Linked DNA regions of Homo sapiens. Changing the gene in region 1 together with any one later gene gives a genetic interaction. Each region holds a gene or a part of one and is shown on either strand. Other genes may lie near its edges.

What was found. A genetic interaction does not mean that the proteins touch.
Region 2: changes in EMC6 (region 1) and SREBF2 together harm fitness more than expected from each alone (negative genetic interaction), as found in Homo sapiens cells (one large-scale study listed by BioGRID).
Region 3: changes in EMC6 (region 1) and FDPS together harm fitness more than expected from each alone (negative genetic interaction), as found in Homo sapiens cells (one large-scale study listed by BioGRID).
Region 4: changes in EMC6 (region 1) and NUTF2 together harm fitness more than expected from each alone (negative genetic interaction), as found in Homo sapiens cells (one large-scale study listed by BioGRID).

The regions. Positions count from the first base shown.
Region 1 is NC_000017.11:3,667,363-3,670,165, forward strand, and holds EMC6 (ER membrane protein complex subunit 6), read left to right. Parts: upstream 1-1,449; 5' UTR 1,450-1,537; exon of another isoform or gene 1,538-1,650; intron 1,651-1,695; exon of another isoform or gene 1,696-1,735; 5' UTR 1,736-1,784; coding exon 1,785-2,117; 3' UTR 2,118-2,303; downstream 2,304-2,803. Other genes in the region: TAX1BP3 (tax1-binding protein 3), read right to left, coding at 1,126-1,164.
Region 2 is NC_000022.11:41,871,105-41,874,604, forward strand, and holds part of SREBF2 (sterol regulatory element-binding protein 2), read left to right. Parts: intron 1-2,693; coding exon 2,694-2,915; intron 2,916-3,500.
Region 3 is NC_000001.11:155,315,366-155,318,865, forward strand, and holds part of FDPS (farnesyl pyrophosphate synthase), read left to right. Parts: intron 1-1,488; exon of another isoform or gene 1,489-2,575; coding exon 2,576-2,656; intron 2,657-2,803; coding exon 2,804-2,926; exon of another isoform or gene 2,927-3,031; intron 3,032-3,299; coding exon 3,300-3,388; intron 3,389-3,490; coding exon 3,491-3,500. UniProt on the Homo sapiens protein: Key enzyme in isoprenoid biosynthesis which catalyzes the formation of farnesyl diphosphate (FPP), a precursor for several classes of essential metabolites including sterols, dolichols, carotenoids, and ubiquinones.
Region 4 is NC_000016.10:67,849,933-67,853,432, forward strand, and holds part of NUTF2 (nuclear transport factor 2), read left to right. Parts: intron 1-3,500. UniProt on the Homo sapiens protein: Mediates the import of GDP-bound RAN from the cytoplasm into the nucleus which is essential for the function of RAN in cargo receptor-mediated nucleocytoplasmic transport.

The DNA.
Region 1 (2,803 bases):
TCAAGCTGGTGCAGGGAGGGTGAAGCTTAGGACAGCTGTCAGCTGGTCCAGCAATGTTTCCTCCTGGCCCAGGCCTGAGCCAGTGCTCTAAGCTCAGCCTCACTTGTCGCCTTTATCAGTGGCTTCTCTGCCTCCACCCACCTGATTGCTGGAGCTTCTCCAGCACACCCAACTGAGATAACACACCCAGTCCCTATGGCTCCAGGGCGGGGACTTTCGCTTGACCTACTGCCCACCGGGCAGGCATTTCTTCTCATTCTCTGAACGCTGTCGGGAGGTAGGCAGGAGACCTGAGTCTTTCCTGAGGTGGTCTTTTCTGGCTGAGCACTTCTCTCTGGGACTCCCCACCTCTGTCATAGGGTTGTGTCCCTCTGTGACACCGGCGTCTGAGTCTAACGTCCCAGCCTTCCTTCCTCCCTCTGCCTAGTCTAATAGCACCCAGCACCTAAAACAAGCCAGAGGGCGGCCAGGGGCCTAGGCTAGCCCCCGGAGGGTCTACTCAGGACTCAAGTGCCAGGAGGGAGGCCTGGACTTTTTTGCCTTAAGGGCTGGAGACCCAGGAAAAGTTCGAAGAGGAAACGCTCATCGCAGCTATACGAGCGTCCACCCTGGACCAGGCGGCGAGTGGGTTGGAGGAGCAAGGCTGGACAGGAAGGGGGCAGGGGCTGCCACGGCAGGCTCGGGAGAGCCCCACCCCCAGATCTCCCTCCGGGCGGCGGCGCAGGCTGCAGCGGAGGAAGCATTTCCTCATTCCAGAGGCTGCGACTCATGGACGTCGGGATCGGCGCCCGCCCCCAGCAGCTCCCCGTCTGGGGACACGGAGGCCCGGGAAGGGGGCGCTTTTCCAGGCTCCTGCAGCCAGGCCTTTCCCCGTGGCCCTCCCCGCCCTGCGCACGCAGTCTGGGCTCTGTCCAGGGTCTCGGGAGGCTCTCGGGTCCCGGCCATCCCTGTTTCGTGGCTGGGGGAACTGCGGCCCGCTCCGGCAAAGCGGGGACCCGAGCCCTTGCCGCCGGTTCGCAGGAGCCCCGGGTTCGATGCTCTGTCAACCTGCTTGGGGTGTCCGTTTCCCGCTCTGCGAGGTGGGGTCAGGCCAAGACGAGGAGGAGCCCGCGCAAGCGCACTCACCACCACGGCGGTGACCGGCTGGCCCGGGATGTAGGACATCTCGACCCTGCTCTGGTCGCCCAGCGCCGCTCCGAGAAGCCGGCAGCAGAGTACCCGCGGTCGCGCCCTCGCTGCTTAACAAAGGCCGCCCCGCTCGGCCCGCCCCCTCATGAATAGTTAACAAACCTCCAGCCAATCACTGGCCGGAGCGCCACTCCGCTTTCGGAAGTCCCTGCGCGTGCGCAGAAAAGCGGGCAGAGGGCGGAGCGTGTCCGGGGCGCCCACGGCGCAGGCGCGGAGGGCGGGGCGGGATCTGGGCGCGTGCGCAGCCCGAGACCTCCCGGCAGTCTTCCGAGCAAGATGGCGCCGCGGGCATTTCTTCCACTGCCCGTCTGAGGGAACGCTAAGTAGTGTGTCCGGCGCCGTGTTCCAGGTAACTGGGCCACCGTGGCCGGGGAACGCAGACGCGCCACCACCTCCCGGCCGGCCCGGACCCTCAATCTCCTCGGCGTCTTTGGAAGATCCGAGGCCCAGGACTGGTGCCAGGTCTCGGAAGCTCCAGGGGGAGGGGGCGGCGTGAACCCAACTCACCGAGCTCCGGGCGCCACTTGTAACTTGGTTTTCTCCGCAGCTCCGCGTTGTTCCGCGAGAAAGCGAGAGGCCGAGCCCGGGCTGGTGCGATGGCCGCGGTGGTGGCCAAGCGGGAAGGGCCGCCGTTCATCAGCGAGGCGGCCGTGCGGGGCAACGCCGCCGTCCTGGATTATTGCCGGACCTCGGTGTCAGCGCTGTCGGGGGCCACGGCCGGCATCCTCGGCCTCACCGGCCTCTACGGCTTCATCTTCTACCTGCTCGCCTCCGTCCTGCTCTCCCTGCTCCTCATTCTCAAGGCGGGAAGGAGGTGGAACAAATATTTCAAATCACGGAGACCTCTCTTTACAGGAGGCCTCATCGGGGGCCTCTTCACCTACGTCCTGTTCTGGACGTTCCTCTACGGCATGGTGCACGTCTACTGAAATGGGGGCCCGGGGGACTTTTTTAAAAAACCAGATCGGGAGGACTGTGGCCAGCAATTAACACCATGTAGACTTCCTTAGTTCTTAAGTGGTTGAATTCGCTGCTTGTTCTGTAACGTTATAAATAATTTATATCTGAAGACGGAGAGCCTGTAATATTCTTCAGATTAAATGAAGCGTGAGACACTTTGTGGAGTTCTTTCCTGCTGTAACGCTTAGGCTGCCACTGATGCAAAATCGCCGAGATTTGACTCCTGGAGAGCAAGGAATGGGCCATAGCCTTGTGTTAAGTCCTTGTATTTACACATAGGCCATTCAGAAACGGGCCCTAAGGGCCTACATAAGGAAAGAACTTATTAACATCCTAAGAAGCAGTAACAGTTAATATGTATTAAGAGCTCCCTGGGCCGGGCACGGTGGCTCATGTCTGTAATCCCAGCACTTTGGGAGGCCGAGGTGGGCGGATCACCTGAGGTCAGGAGTTCAAGACCAACCTGGCCAACATGGCAAAACTCCGTCTCTACTAAAAATATAAATATTAGCCGGGTGTGGTGGCGCGCGCCTGCAATGCCAGGTACTCGGGAGGCTGAGGAAAGAGAATCGCTTGAACCCTGGAGGCAGAGGTTGCAGCGAGCCGAGATCGTGCCACTGCATTCCAGCCTGGGTGATGGAGCAAGACTCCGTCT
Region 2 (3,500 bases), on another chromosome or scaffold:
GTTAAATCTCTATATGCTGAGTAGGTATGGGAGGGTCTATAGCACAAATCAGTCAAATTGTAAATGTCACCCCTCTTAGTTGTTTTTCGCTCGAAAAAGTATTAGCAATGTGTGTTCGATGTGGGAGTACTGGAGTCTACAAGGAGGTAGAAAAGAATAGCAGAAGGACCCTCTATTCTTGGCTAATAGCTCCACACAAGACCATTCACCTCTTAGATCCTGCTGATGACTTCTGAAGGACCCTAGGGCCACCAGGCAGGGAAGGGCTCCAAGGTGAAGAACATGGAAGGTACCCCATCCTTCAGTTGTAGGTTCTTAGCCACTTTCAGCATCCTATAGCATGAGAATCTGATAGAGTAAATGGTGATTAAAATTTAGAAGCACTAGCTTTATTCATAAAATCCAAGAACTGGAAGCAACTCAAATGTCCATCCACAGGAAAATAAGCACATTGTGATATATTCATACAATGAAATTATGCCTAGCAATTAAAAAACAGAACTGCTGACAGGCACGGTGGCTCACGCCTGTAATCTCAGCACTTTGGGAGGCCAAGAGGGGTGGATCACCTGAGGTCAGGAGTTTGAGACCAGCCTGGCCAACACGGTGAAACCCCATTTCTACTAAAAATACAAAAATTAGCTGGGTATGGTGGTGCATGGTGCATGCCTGTAATCCCAGCTACTCAGGAGGCTGAGGCAGGAGAATTGCTTGAACCTGAGAGGTGGAAGCTGCAGTGAGCCGAGATCGCACCACTGCACTCCAGCCTGGATGACAGAACGAGACTGACTCTCAAAAAAAAAAAAAAAAGCTACTGATGCATGAAACAACATGGGGCTGTCCCTCAGAAATAGTGTGTCAAGCCACCGGGCGCAGTGGCTCACACCTGTAATCCCAGCACTTTGGGAGGCCGAGGTGGGTAGATCATGAGGTCAGGAGATCGAGACCATCCTGGCTACCATGGTGAAACCCCGTCTCTGCTAAAAATACAAAAAATTAGCCGGGCATGGTGGCGGGCACCTGTAGTCCTAGCTACTCGGGAGGCCGAGGTAGGAGAATGTCGTGAACCTGGGAGGTGGAGCTTGCAGTGAGCCAAGATTGCGCCACTGCACTCCAGCCCGGGCGACAGAGCAAATCTCCGTCTCAAAAAAAAAAAAAAAGAAATAGTGTGTCAAGCCAAAGGAGTTCATGCTAATGAGTCCATTTATATGAAGTTTAAAAAGAGGCAAAATGAAGCTATGGTGCTGGAATTCAGAGCGGTGGTGACAAGGAGGGGAGGGGCATGCGGGGACTTTCTGAGCTGGTAGAAATGGGCTATATCTTGGTCTGGGTGGTTATATACATTGTGTACATATGTAAAATTCATCAAGCTATAAACTTAAGATTTGTGGTTTTTATTGTGCATGACGTACTTATTGGCAACTAATGAAATTGGGCACCTTTTTATTTATTTATTGGCTGATTAGATATTGAGGCCATTATTTAAGAAATTAAACTAAAATTGGTCCAGGCCCAGTGGCTCACGCCTGTATTCCCAGCATTTTGGGAGGCTGAGGTGGGCAGATCACCTGAGGTCAGTAGTTTGAGATCAGCCTGGCCAACATGATGAAATCCCATCTCTACTAAAAATACAAAAATGAGCCAGGTGTGGTGGTGGGTGCCTGTATTCCCAGCTACTCAGGAGGCTGAGGCAGGAGAATCACTTGAACCAGGGGGGTGCAGGTTGTAGTAAGCTGTGATCACGCCACTGCACTCCAGCTTTTGGGCAACAGAGTGAGACTTTGTCTCAAAAAAAAAAACAAAAACAAAAAAACAGGACGTGGTGGCTCACGCCTGTAATCCCAGCACTTTGGGAGGCCAAGGCGGGTGGATCACCTGAGGTCAGCAGTTTGAGACCAGCCTGACCAACATGGAGAAACCCCGTCTCTACTAAAAATACAAAATTAGCCAGGCATGGTGGCGCATGCCTGTAATCCAAGCTACTCGGGAGGCTGAGGCAGCAGAATCACTTGAAGCTGGGAGGCAGAGTTTGTGGTGAGCCGAGATCACACCATTGCATTCCAGCCTGGGCAACAAGAGCGAAACTCCGTCTCAAAAAAAATAAAATAAAATAAAATAAAGTTAGAAAAAATAAGAGGAGAAAACAGAGATGAAGAATAAAAAGGGGAGACCTCCATGGTTGGCCTATTTACTTAATCAAATGGCTCTTATTGAGAGTGTCACTTCTGCCCTTGAGCTTTTTGATGGCAAAATTGTATAAAGAAATGCAGTAATTTGCTTAATTGTCATTTGAGAGGAAAAAATGTGTCATACACTAGGAGAAAGTTTTCTCTGGTGCCAACTCGTGGTTCACCGTGTACAACTTTAGAAGTGGTTAACAGTTTGACAGCAAAGCAGAAATCATATGACTTGTTTCTGGCATACGTAGATCAAAACTTAAAACATATTTAGCCATGTTAATCCTCTTGTGGTGTAGTTTATCAGCAGTGATTCTTGAAGGGAGGTAGTAACCAAGGTTCCGTGGCTCCTGAGACTTCTTGGGGCCTGATTTGATTAACCCAGGAAGAGTCTCAGACCTCATGAAGTACTGCCAGGTCTGGCAGCACTTGGCCAAAGCGGGCAGGTCTGTGTTGAGGTTGCTTTATGCAGACTAACAAAGGGATCATTCTGCTGTGTACCTGTCCCTATTCTAGACCCTGGTGGGCAGCAGTGGGACCATTCTGACCACAATGCCTGTAATGATGGGGCAAGAGAAAGTGCCCATTAAGCAGGTACCTGGGGGAGTCAAGCAGCTTGAGCCCCCCAAAGAAGGAGAAAGGCGGACAACCCATAATATCATTGAGAAACGATATCGCTCCTCCATCAATGACAAAATCATCGAATTGAAAGACCTGGTCATGGGGACAGACGCCAAGGTGGGTGCCAAGCAAAATTGTGTTTTATGTTCCACCATCTCCCCTCTACCTGTTTTTGCCTCAGGAGCCTAGAGAAGTCCCAGGCTCAAGGTAAGTGAATACAAGACCGAGTTAGAGGTGCTTTTTTATTAAAGCATCTTGGTGTCATGTCAAGATTATAAAATATTAAAAAACATAAGGGACTGGTGAGGGTTGATAAGGCAGTGACCCGCTGAGACCTTTGACTCCTTTGGCTATGCTCTGCAGTGATGGGGACTCCACTGTCAGAGGCAGAGAAAGATGCCTGCCACTCAGTAGTTCCAGATACAGGACTGTGTGTACCTTGGAGTCAGCTGATGGCATAGTTTTAGCTGTGTTTAGGGGTTACCTTTTAAGGAAAAGAAAGAAAAAAGAGGTTGAGTCTTTGACCAGCAACACATAGAGGAAACTGATGTTCCAAATGTTTCTGGTGTTTCAGTGTATGTGTCTTCTAGAAAGTAGGAGATTTTATTTTTAAAACCTATCTATGTTTAAACCCTATTTTGAAAGAAAATTTCATTTTCCTTGCCTACAAATCTGAAAGCTGTACATCCTAAGTAAAAATCT
Region 3 (3,500 bases), on another chromosome or scaffold:
GAAACCCCATCTCTACTGAAAATACAAAATTAGGCTGGGCGCAGTGGCTCATGCCTGTAATCCCAGCACTTTGGGAGGCTGAGGCGGGCGGATCATGAAGTCAGGAGATCGAGACCATCCTGGCTAACATGGTGAAACCCCGTCTCTACTAAGAATACAAAAAAAATATTAGCCGGGCATGGTGGCAGGCGCCTGTAGTCCCAGCTATTTGGGAGGCTGAGGTAGGAGAATGGCGTGAACCTGGGAGGCGGAGCTTGCAGTGAGCTGAGATTGTGCCACTGCACTCCAGCCTGGGCAACAAGAGCGAGACTCTGTCTCAAAAAAAAACAAAAAACAAAAAACAAAAAAAAAATTAGCCAGGCGTGGAGGCACATGCCTATAATCCCAGCTACTCAGGAGGCTGAGGCAGGAAAATCGCTTGAACCCGGGAGGCGGAGGTTGCAGTGAGCCAAGATCGCGCTATTGCACTCCAGCCTGGGCAACAAGAGCGAAACTCCATCTCAAAAAAAAAAAAACACACAAACCATGTCTTCTGCTCAAGCCTGGGTGACAGAGTGAGATCCTGTCTCAAAAGAAAATAATAATAAAAATTAAAACCTGGGTATAGGGCCGGGTGCATTGGCTCACACTTAAAATCCCAGCACTTTGGGAGGCCAAGGTGGATGGATCACGTGAGGTCAGGAGTTCGAGACCAGCCTGACCAACATGGTGAAACCTTGTCTCTACTAAAAACACAAAAATTAGCCGGGTGTGATGGCACGTGCCTGTAATCCCAGCTACTTGGGAGGCTGAGGCAGGAGAATCGCGTGAACCCGGGAGGCGGAGGTTGCAGTGAGCCGAGATTGCGCCATTGCACTCCAGCCTGGACAATGAGAGTGAAACTCCATCTCAAAAACAAAAACCTGGGTATGTATCTAGAAGTGGAAAAACAAAAAAAGGAAATAAGTTATGAAAATAAAAACCATGTCTTGAGCTGGGTGCGCTGGTGTGTGCCTATATCCCTAGATTCTCAAGAGTTGAGACAGGAGGATCACTTGAGCCCAGGAGTTCAAGTCCAACTTGGGCAACATGACAAGACCCTTGTCTCTTTAAAAAAGCAACCCAAACCATGTCTTGAAAAGCTATTTAATGGTCAGACACGATGGCTCACGCCTGTAATCCCAGCACTTTGGGAGGCCGAGGCAGGCGGATCACTTGAGGTCAGGAGTTCAAGACCAGCCTGGCCAACATGGCAAAACCCAGTCTCTACTGAATGAAAATACAAAAATTAGCTGGCCTAGCAGTTGGTGGTGGCAGGTGCCTGTAGTCCCAGCTACTTGGGAGGCTGAGGCAGGAGAATCGCTTGAATTTGGGAGGCGGAGGTTACAGTGAACCCACATGGCGCCACTGCACTCCAGCTTGGGTGATAGAGTGAGACTCTATCTCAAAAAAAAAAAAAAAGAAAAGCTATTTAAGGAACCAAAACATAGTTTGACTGACTGCAAGAAGTATCACAGGGAATGTTAGAGTGTTTTATTAATTTCTTTGTCAGACAAGTGTTTAGGAAACTCTCACTCCAGGCCTAATGCTGTGCTAGGCTCTGCAAATGCTAAGAGGGGGAAGTTACTGTCCCTGCTTCCAAGGAGATCATGGTCTAGTGGGAAACCCGACACGTTCAGGTACCTTCAGATGGGCACTCAGAAGAGTAAGCCCTTAGTTAATGTTTAAAGATGTTTAAAGATGTCTGAGACTCATAGGTCAAAGTCAGATTTCAGTTCCACCTTATTAGACCTGCACTGCTAAGGAGCTGCTTTAGGTAAGGCTGTGTTCCTAGTCACCAGGGTGTTCAAACACAGTGCTGGGGGCAATGTGGGAATAGCCTTCTTTTATTTAGGAAGTAATGTGAAGTCAGTTTCATGAATAGATCTTACTTTAAGCATTCATTGAGGTTTTTGGCAAGAATAGAGTACGGTATATGAAGGTGTTTCCTAATCTCCCTGACACCAGGAATAATCTAGGGCTCATTAGAGATGTCAAAGATCTGTTCTAGTTTCTTAACCTAAAACAAGAGTGTTTTAGTTCCATTTTATAGGCGGGGAGTCTGAGCCAAACATGTTATGTCACTTTCCAAGTCTCCATAGCACAGAAGTCTTCTGTCTCCCCATCCTGACTTTCCCAGCTCATAGGGACTGTCAAAGGCAGCAGCTCTGGCCGGCTGTGATGCCTCATGCCTGTAATCCCAGTAATTTGGGAGGCTGAGGCAGGAGGATCATTTGAACCCAGGGGTTCAAAACCAGCCTGAGCAACATAGTGGGACCCTGTCTCTACAAAAAATAAATTAAAAAAAAAAAATAGCCAGGCATGGGGTATGTGCCTATGGTCTCAGGAACTCAGGAAGCTGAAGTGGGAGGATCACTTGAGCCTGGGAGTTAGAGGCTACAGTGAGCTGTGACTGCACCACTGCACTGGATAATAGTGAGACTCTGTCCCCTACCAAAAAAAAGCAAAACTATATACAGATATAAAGTAGCAGCTCTGTTGCTGATAGAAGGAACAGTAATGAGGAGCCCTGCAGGTCTTATTCCACTCTTTCTAGCTGCAAGCTTTCTTCCTGGTGGCAGATGACATCATGGATTCATCCCTTACCCGCCGGGGACAGATCTGCTGGTATCAGAAGGTAATGTGGGCAGGAAAATAGCAGTGGGTATGGGGACAGGCCACAGGGAGGTGGTTATATATGGCCTGGTTGAGGTGTTGGGGTGATGGCTCTTAGTATGAACCGAGACTAGAGATTGATTGCTTGTTTTTCTGTCTGTCATGACAGCCGGGCGTGGGTTTGGATGCCATCAATGATGCTAACCTCCTGGAAGCATGTATCTACCGCCTGCTGAAGCTCTATTGCCGGGAGCAGCCCTATTACCTGAACCTGATCGAGCTCTTCCTGCAGGTGTATTGCAGACAGGGCCCGATGCCCAGAGGGTGCCCATGGTAGCCTTGGCCTCTATAGGACATGCTCATCTAGCTGGTTTCAGGGTACAGGATTGCAGCGTGCCTGGAAGGGAAAGAAAGCGAGGAAGGGTGTTGGGAAGTGGGGTTGTGGTAGTGGCAAGAAAGGGCTTCTCTGTCCTGTGTAATTGGAAGAAAGGGTGATAAAGGACTGTGTGTATGAATATGGGCCTTAAGTTTTGGGGCTTTCTCCCCTTCTGTTGCCTTTCTGATTCTGCCCAGTTGTCAGCTGGTATGGGATGTTGGGCTTGGGATACCAGGGTTTCGCATATCTGGAGAAAGCCTGGCTCATGGACCGTCTTTGTCTTGCTTAGAGTTCCTATCAGACTGAGATTGGGCAGACCCTGGACCTCCTCACAGCCCCCCAGGGCAATGTGGATCTTGTCAGATTCACTGAAAAGAGGTGAGGGGAGGTGAGGGACAGCGCGAACCATGTCTGGACAGCGAGGGAGGGCTCAGGATGTGCATTGCCCTCCTGAGGAGTTTCTCTTCTCCCCTTACTCAGGTACAAATCT
Region 4 (3,500 bases), on another chromosome or scaffold:
CAGGCGTGAGCCACCACGTCCGGCCTTATTTTTATTTTTTGCAGTGATGTCATCTCCATATGTTGCCCAGGCTGGTCTCAAACTCCTGAGTTCAAGCGATACTCCCACCTCAGCCTCCCAAAGTGCTGGGATTACAGATGTGAACAATTGCCCAGTGATCACAAGGGTTTTCTTCAGGGACAAAAAGATACTTTTCCTTCTCCAACGTTACTCAAGAGTAGGAGGAATTCAGGTCCCTCCCTCTCATTCCAACCTCTAGAAGTTCCCTGTAACTTCTTTTTTTTTTTTTTGAGATGGAGTCGTACTCTGTCTCACAGGCTGGAGTGCAGTGGCGCGATCTCGGCTCACTGCAAGCTCCGCCTCCCGGGTTCACGCCATTCTCCTGCCTCAGCCTCCCGAGTAGCTGGGACTATAGGCACCCGCCACCACGCCCGGCTAATTTTTTGTGTGTTTTTAGTAGAGACAGGGTTTCACCATGTCAGCCAGGATGGTCTCGATCTCCTGACCTCGTGATCCACCCGCCTTGGCCTCCCAAAGTGCTGGGATTACAGGCGTGAGCCACCGCGCCTGGCCGTTCCCTGTAACCTCTTTGTCTGAGGTCAGCTAGCCATTGCTAGGCATCCTGATCCTGAGAATTCGTTAAATGTTTCTGGAACTTGGCGGGCCATCTAGGTCTCAGATATAAGAGAAGTGGCCTGAGGTTCTCCAGGATCTATCTGCATCCTCTATTCATGTAGGGCTGACTTGGAAGTGGGACCTGGCATGCGGTGGTTGGGATATTGCCGCACAAGGATGAGGCAGGATACAAGATGCCTCAGTTCTCAATTAGCTCAAAATTATGTCCCTTCGTGTATAGGAGCCTATCTGCCTATCACTATTTTTTTTTGAGACAGAGCCTCGCTCTGTTGCCCAGGCTGGAGTGCAGTGGTGCAATCTCAGCTCACTGCAACCTCCGCCTCCTGGGTTCAAGCAATTCTCCTGCCTCAGCCACCCGAGTAGCTGAGATTACAGGTGCCCACCACCACACCCAGCTAATTTTTGTATTCTTAGTAGAGATGGGGTTTCACCATATTGGCCAGGCTAGTCTTGAACTCCTGACCTCAAGTGACCCACTCGCCTTGGCTGCCCAAAGTGCTAGGATTACAGGTGTGAGCCACCGCACCTGGCCGAGCCCATCTCTTCTCTCTGAGCCATGTCTTGTTTTATTCCGTTGCCTTTGGAGTTGGTGGTTTGGGAGGGGAATAATTACTTAAGAGAGACACAGAATAGGCAGGGTGCGGTGGCTCATGCCTGTAATCCCAGCACTTTGGGAGGGCGAGGTGGGCGGATCACGAGGTTAGGAGTTGGAGACCAGCTTGGCCAATATAGTGAAACTCTGTTTCTATTAAAAATACAAAAATTAGCTGAGCATGGTGGCAGGTGCCTGTAATCCCAGCTACTTGGGAGGCTGAGGCAGGAGAATCGCTTGAACCAGGGAGGCGGACGTTGCAGTGAGCCAAGATTGTGCCACTGCACTGCAGCCTGGTGACAGAGTGAGACCCTGTCTCAAAAAACAAGGGAGACCAGAATTTTGTTTTTTTTATTATTATTATACTTTAAGTTCTAGGGTACATGTGTACAACTTGCAGTTTTGTTACATATGTATACATAACGCCATGTTGATGTGCTGCACCCATTAACTCGTCATTTACATTAGGTGTATCTCCTAATGCTATCCCTCCCCGCTACCCCCGCCCCAGGACAGGCCCCGGTGTGTGATGTTTCCACCCTGGAGACACAGAATTTTCAAATTTCAGAACAAGTCTGGGCGCAGTGGCTCACGCCTGTAATCCCAGCACTTTGGGAGGCTGAGGTGGGTGGATTACTTGAGGTCAGGAGTTCAAAACCAGCCTTACCAACATGGAAAAACCCTGTCTCTACTAAAAATATGAAAATTAGCTGAGCGTGGTGGTGCATGCCTGTAATCCCAGCTACTCAGGAGGCTGAGGCAGGAGACTCGCTTGAACCTGGGAGGCGGAGCTTGCAGTGAGCTGAGACTGTGCCATTGCGCTCCAGCCTGGGCAACAACAGCGAAACTCCATCTTGAAAAAAAAAAATTCATAACTAGAAGCCACCTTATATCAAAAATTCTAGGATTCAGCACCAGCTCTGAAGCTGGAGCATTGCTTGAGGCCAGGAGTTCAAAACTAGCCTTGTCAACATAGCAATACCCATTTCTACAAAAGAAAAATAAAAAAATAGCCAGTGTGGTTGTGGTGTTGTATACCTGTAGTTCCAGCTGCTCAAGAGGCTGCAGGAGGTCAAGGAACCGTGAGCTATGATCATGCCACTGCACTGTAGCCTGGGGACACTCTAGCAAGACCCTGTCTCCAAAAAAAAGGCTAGGTTTCCCTTAACAAAACACTATTATCTTTTTTTCTTTTTTTTTTTTTTTCACCCAGGCTGGAGTGAAGTGTCACTCTTGCCCAGGCTCAAGTGCAGTGTCGCAGTCTCGGCTCACTGCAACCCCCGCCCTCCGGGTTCAAGCAATTCTCCTGTGTCAACCTTCCGAGTGGCTGGGATTATACCCGCCTGCCGGTATAATCCGGCTAATTTTAATATTTCTAGTAGAGATGGGGTTTTGCCATGTTGGCCAGGCTGGTCTCAAACTCCTGACCTCAGGCGATCCGCCCACCTCAGCTTCCCAAAGTGCTGGGATTATAAGCTTGAGCCACCATGCCTGGCCTTTTTTTCTTTATTTTATTTCTTTATTTTTTTATTTTTTGAGACAGAGTTTCGCTCTTATTGCCCAGGCTGGAGTGCAATGGCGTGATCTCGGCTCACTGCAACCTCTGCCTCCTGGGTTCTAGCGATTCTCTTGCCTCAGCCTCCCTAGTAGCTGGGATTACAGGCATGTGCCACCACGCCTGGCTAATTTTGTATTTTTAGTAGAGATGGGGTTTCTCCATGTTGGTCAGGCTGGTCTCGAACTCCCGACCTCACTCAGGTGATCCACCCACCTTGGCCTCCCAAAGTGCTGGGATTACAGGCATGAGCCACCGCTCCCGGCCCTTTTTTTCTTTCTTTTTAAAGTTTTTCTTAGGGTACATCAGCAGCCTTTTTATTTTATTTTATTTTATTTTAATGAGATAAGGTCTCACTCTTTTACCAACAGTGAGACCCTGTCTTTAAAATAAATTAAATAAATAGAAACCAGCCAGGTATGGTGGTGGGTGCCTGTAGTCCCAGCTACTTGGGAGGTGAGGCAAGAGGATCACTTCAGCCCAGAAGTTCAAGTCTGCAGTGAGCTGTGATTGTGGCACTGCTAAAGTGCAGTTGGTGCCATCTCAGGTCACTGCAGCCTTGACCTCCTGGGCTCAAGCAGTCCTCCCACCTCAGCCTCCTGAGTAGCTGGGACTACAGGTGCGCACCATCACGCTTGGCTAATTATTATTATTATTTCTGAGACGGAGTCTCACTCTGTCTCCCAGGCTGGAGTGCAGTGGCACGATCTCGGCTCA